Regions from separate parts of the Homo sapiens genome. Here region 2 is linked to region 1. The links come from fine-mapping of genetic effects on gene expression. A gene starts in region 1. The other region holds a variant in brackets. All regions are shown on one strand. Distances are between the middles of the regions.

Region 1 (2,805 bases):
TATATGTAGAATAGCCAGCACACAGTAGACAAGATTTATGTAGATTACTTGATGCAGAGTAGGTGCGCTTTCTGTGGGTCACCAGGTACGTAGTACACATGCTCAATGTGGAGCACCTGACACACAGTAGGTATGCTTTATATACAGCACATGGCACAGAGTAGGCACGCTTTATATGAAGTACTCTGCATAAAGTAAGCTTACATTATGTACAGCATGCTGCACACAGTAGGTGAGCTTTATGTGGCATACCTGGCACATAGTAGACAGAATTTATGTACAGTATCTGATACACAGTAAGTGCACTTTATATAGTGAAACTGGCACACAGTAGGTGCACACAGTAGTGCTTTCCGTACAGTCTTTCGCATGGAGTAGAGACAGGCACACAGCAGCTCAAGTGCTAGTTGTCATCCCCTTCCCTTCAGTCCCTCTTTTTGGAGCTCCCTTTTCTTAGGAGCCTTCCTCCGTCGCCCTCTAAGGCCTCATCTGACATCCCATTTCCCAGATGGGAAGCCTGAGCCCAGGATGGCCACACTGCCCACAGTCAGAGAAAGGACAGGGCAGAACAAGGACTCCACTCGGGATCCCCTTGCTCTGCCCTCCCCTGCCTGGACCCCGTCAGCTCAAGGCCCCTCTCAGCCTCATCCCCTGTGCCTCCGCTCTGTCCTCCTAAGCTGAGCCCAGCTTCTAGGTTTGCTCCTCCAGCTGGGCTCTTTATCCCCAGAATCTGACGAAGGTAATCCTCAGCGGGGTTGGGGCTGGATTCTTTCTTCCTGCTTCAAGCAGTCAGGCCTCAACTCAGGCCCTGGGCTGCCAGGAGGCAGGACTTGAACTCTTGCCAGGCTGTGAAGCCAGAGATGAGAGGCTTCTGTCTCTGAATCTCCTAAGTCTGCACCAAGATGTAGTGCCTGACATCCTCCCCGCCCATGTTTGGAGAGGAGCCCAGATGATCTGGGACAAGGGTTGGCCTGGCCCAGCTCAGCTGGCTGCCAACTGTCATGATAAGTATATGCTTTTATCTGAACACCCTTGTCTTGGAAGGGCAGGGTGGAGGTAAACTTGGGGTTCAGAGTCCCCTCTAACCACCCTCCAACTTCCCCTGCAAACTCCCAAGAAGGTACTGAGACCTGAGAATTCAGTGCTCGTGCTGGGGCACCCTGAGCTGCACCCAGTGGGCCCAACCCCAGGTTTTGGCTGGCTGCCCAGGCACGGAAGACACACCCAGGCTGTGGGGATTGGCTGCCTCAGCCCAGCCCAGCCCAGCCCCGCCTCCTACGGCCTTCCCTAGATCAGGGGCCAGGGCCAAAGACCTCCCAGCAGAAGAGGAGAAGAGGTTGTGTGGGACAAGCTGCTCCCGACAGAAGGTACCAGGCTGGGGGTGGCAGGGCTGGAAGGTCCTGGCCTGGGATGAAGAGGGGACTGCCTAAGGCTGGGGTGGCTCCAAGATGCTGGCATGGGAAACTGGGGGTTTCCTGGTAACTGGACTCCTAGCAAACTCCCAAGGATTCAGGTGGGGCCCTTCTGGACTCTAATCGGCCCATCTCTTTCCCTTTCTGTGTGGTTACCAGGTTACTGGAGGCCACTTAGTTGTTGGTTTTGGTTGGGACTTTCTGGACTTCAGATCTCAGCCCTCGTTTACTCACCCCTGAGCCCTCCCTGCCCTGCCCCCAGCAGTTCCTGACTTCGCCCCTATACACTGTCCCCGGAGCTCTTCCCTGGGCCTCAGGTCCTCACCCTGCATCCCCTCTGCCCTGCAGGATGTCGCTGCTGAGCCTGCCCTGGCTGGGCCTCAGACCGGTGGCAACGTCCCCATGGCTACTCCTGCTGCTGGTTGTGGGCTCCTGGCTACTCGCCCGCATCCTGGCTTGGACCTATGCCTTCTATAACAACTGCCGCCGGCTCCAGTGTTTCCCACAGCCCCCAAAACGGAACTGGTTTTGGGGTCACCTGGGCCTGGTGAGTGTGACAGCAAAATGTGTCTGGGGTCTCAGGGTGGATGGACTTCCAGAGGAGCAGGAATGGGGCTCAGTGAGCTAGGTATTGATGGTGGCTGGGGTCTGCGACCCCAGAGAAGCAAGAGAGATGGCTCACTCATTCCTCTGCTAACTCACTCATTCCTCTACCCACTCACTCCTCTACCCACTCACTCACTCCTCTACCCACTCACTCACTCCTCTACCCACTCACTCATTCCTCTACCCACTCACTCATTCCTCTACCCACTCACTCCTCTACCCACTCACTCACTCCTCTACCCACTCACTCACTCCTCTCCTCACTCACTCATTCCTCTCCTCACTCACTCATTCCTCTACCCACTCACTCACTCCTTTCCTCACTCACTCACTCCTCTCCTCACTCACTCATTCCTCTCCTCACTCACTCATTCCTCTCCTCACTCACTCATTCCTCTACCCACTCACTCACTCCTCTACCCACTCACTCAATCCTCTACCCACTCACTCACTCCTCTACCCACTCACACATTGCCCTCCTCACTCACTCATTCCTCTCCTCACTCACTCATTCCCCTCCTCACTCATTCCTCTCCTCACTCACTCATTCCTCTACCCACTCACTCATTCCTCTCCTCACTCACTCATTCCTCTACCCACTCACTCATTCCTCTCCTCACTCACTCATTCCTCTCCTCACTCGCGCATTCCTCTCATTCGCGCATTCCTCTCATTCACTCATTCCTCTCCTCACTCACTCATTCCTCTCCTCACTCTTATTCGTCTGCTCACTCACTCATTCCTCTGCTCACTCATTCCTCTCCTCATTCACTCCTTCCCCTCATCA
Region 2 (2,805 bases), 48 kb after region 1:
TTTCCATCTCCACTTCATTTTTTTTCTTTTTTTTTTTTTTGCAAATGAAAGGGTCTCTAAGGATCAGCTACAGAGCTGCAGGGAGGTTAGGTTTGAATGCATAGCTCAGGGATTAAGTGGAGACAGAAACACGGCTCATCTTACTCTGGGGAAATGGTCCCAGAGAGTTTTCCATTTAGCCTCAGGTCCAAACTTAGGTGTCTGATTAGCAGCAAGAGACATAGGTAGGCATTGGAAGTGGCTCTTTCTTCCCCAAGACACTATAGTCCCAGAGCTCCACATAGCCAAATGTTACAGAAAGCACCACAGCATCTTGGACATCAGAACCAAAGTATGCAAAGTACTTGGTGCCAAGAGTGGCCCCTGTGAGCATTTTGTGCTGCCCGATGGGATGGAGGGTAAGGTCTCCAGAGCTCCGAGGTGGGCCAGGCTTCTGCTTCCTCCATCCTAATACTTACCACACTCTCCTTATTATATAAATGACTTGTTCAATACCTACTATCTTTCTCTACTCAACGTTCCCCCCAAGAAGATAAGGCCACACTGGATTTGCCCAACCTTGTGTTCTCACTGCTTGGCACCTAATAGATGCTCAATAAATAATCGCAGAGAAAACAAACAAATGACTCTCTCATTGCAACCCCATTCCATGTCTGTGAGTTGCAAAACCCTTCTAAAATGTGGATGGCTATTCTCCAGTTAATCTGAAATTCATTTTGTAGATGTAGTTGACATCATTTGAACCCACCTGCCCTTATGTGTGTATCCCCTGTGTCAACTCAGGTCTGATGGATTATGGGGAAAGGTCCTTTGGATGCAAACCTCTGCCTGTCTTTTAGGCTCCTTGAGCCACTCCTCACTCCTAGCTGCCCAAGGCCCCTTCCATATTGGCCTTCTTCGGTTCCTTGGATGAGCAGTCATTTTCCCACCCTAAGTCCTTTGCACATGCCCTTCCCTCTGCTTGGTGCACAACCTTTCCTCTCCCTCTGCAGAATGACTCAAATGAAGTGCTACCTCCTCCGTGAAGTTCTCTCCTATCAGCCTGTCCTGCTTTCTGAGGATTCATTTGCCTACTCCTGTAGCCACTACCATCCCTTCCTTATGCTCCTCCTGCTCTTGTCTGAAATTCAGTTATTCATCATCTACCTTCTCTCCTCCACTGTAAAGTCCACAAGAACAGGCACTAAGTCTGCACTGGCCATTGCAGTGTCCACAGCTCCTGGCTCAGTGATGAGCTCCAATGCTCTGGATACATCTGTTAAGTGTGTGGTAGCTGAGGCTGAACTTCCTCTGAGCTGGAGATAAGAGTTATCTCATGCACAGTCTTTAGGGGTTGAGGCTGATCACTCTCATCATCTTAAGCAGCCAGTGTGGCTCTTTCTATTTCTCCCTGTTACCAAAGAGCAGATCAAGCATGAGGTTACCTGTTTCTACTAATATTTATTGTCAGGCAGTGCTTATCTCAGATGGAGGAGACCTCTTGAGCAAGAAGTTGACCAAGACATTGAAGAGCCCTTCAACCCAACTCAGCC[T/C]TCCGATCTTTAGTGAAAATGTTATCCTATGAATATTTATGACACACCTAATATGTGCTAGAATGGTGACTGCGACCTGGATTCCACCTCTAAGAGCTTCTGGGCAAAGAAGGGAGACAGACCAGTGCATCAGTCATTCAGATACCGCAAGATAAATGCAATGAAAATGCTGCAGGCTCCTGCTTACAGCCCTTTTCCCTTCTCTGAAACTCATTGAGGTGAAAAGATCCAAAAAAGGAATTCATCTAGAATAAATTACCATTAATACTAAAGAGAACCTGCGTGGCTTGTTTCACTTGACACAATGTCTTCTAGGTTCATCCATGTTGTCGTGAATGAGAGGATTTCCTTCTTTTTCAAGGCTGAATAGTATTCCATGTGTATTTATTACCTCATCCATTTATCCGTTGATGTACACTTAGGTTGATTCCATCTCTTGACTTTTGTGAATAGTGCTGCAATGAATGTGGGAGTGAAGATATCTCTTTAATATACTGATTTCATATCCTTTGGGTATATACTATACCCAGATTATATGATATGCTGGATATTATATGCTGGATTATATGATAATTCCATTTTTAATTTTCTGAGGAACCTCTATACTGTTTTTTATAATGGCTGTACTCATCTACAATCCCACCTACAGTTTACAAGAGTTCCCTTTTCTTCACATTCTTGCCAACATTTTTTTTATCTTTCATCTTTTTGATGTTGGTCAAAGAACATAAAATTTCAGTTAGACAGGAAGACCAAGAGATCTAGTGCATCATGATGACTATAATTAATAACAATCTATTGTATATTTGAAAATTAACGAGAGTAGATTTTGAGTATTGCCATCACAGAAAAGAATGATAACTATGTGGGATAATGCACATGTTAACAGTCTTGAATGAACCATTCCGCAGTGTATACAGATATCCAAACGTCATGTTGTACAGCATAAATACATACACATTAAAAAAATGAGTATCTGCCAGATTTCATGTATTTGGGATCAGATGGAAGAAACAGAGGAATTTGTCGCACAGTCCCTGACTCAAGGGCAGAATGCAGTGAAAGGAAGTAGATGGAGAAGATGTTTCTTTTTCTTTTCTCTTTCTTTTCTTTCTCTTTTCTTTTTCTTTTCTTCCTCCTTTCTTTCTTTCTTTCTTTCTTTCTTTCTTTCTTTCTTTCTTTCTTTCTTTCTTTCTTTCTTTCTTTCTTTCTTTCTTTCTCTTTCTTTCTTTTCTTTCTTTCTTTCTTTTTTTGGAGATACAGTCTCACTCTG

The links. PIP is the estimated chance that this variant, and not a neighbour inherited with it, causes the effect. A credible set is the group of variants that fine-mapping cannot tell apart.
Region 2: its variant is the best candidate, but not a certain one, in a credible set for the expression of CYP4F12 in whole blood (INTERVAL, PIP 0.51).

The regions. Positions count from the first base shown.
Region 1 is chr19:15,671,769-15,674,573 of GRCh38, forward strand. CYP4F12 (cytochrome P450 family 4 subfamily F member 12) reads left to right here and starts at 1,319. Exons shown (of 13, transcript NM_023944.4): 1 at 1,319-1,367; 2 at 1,761-1,959. The coding sequence starts at 1,762.
Region 2 is chr19:15,720,084-15,722,888 of GRCh38, forward strand. No RefSeq gene overlaps it. Among named protein-coding and RNA genes, the nearest start is that of OR10H2, 6.5 kb to the right of the region's middle. The variant T/C (reference allele first, on the strand shown) is at 1,533.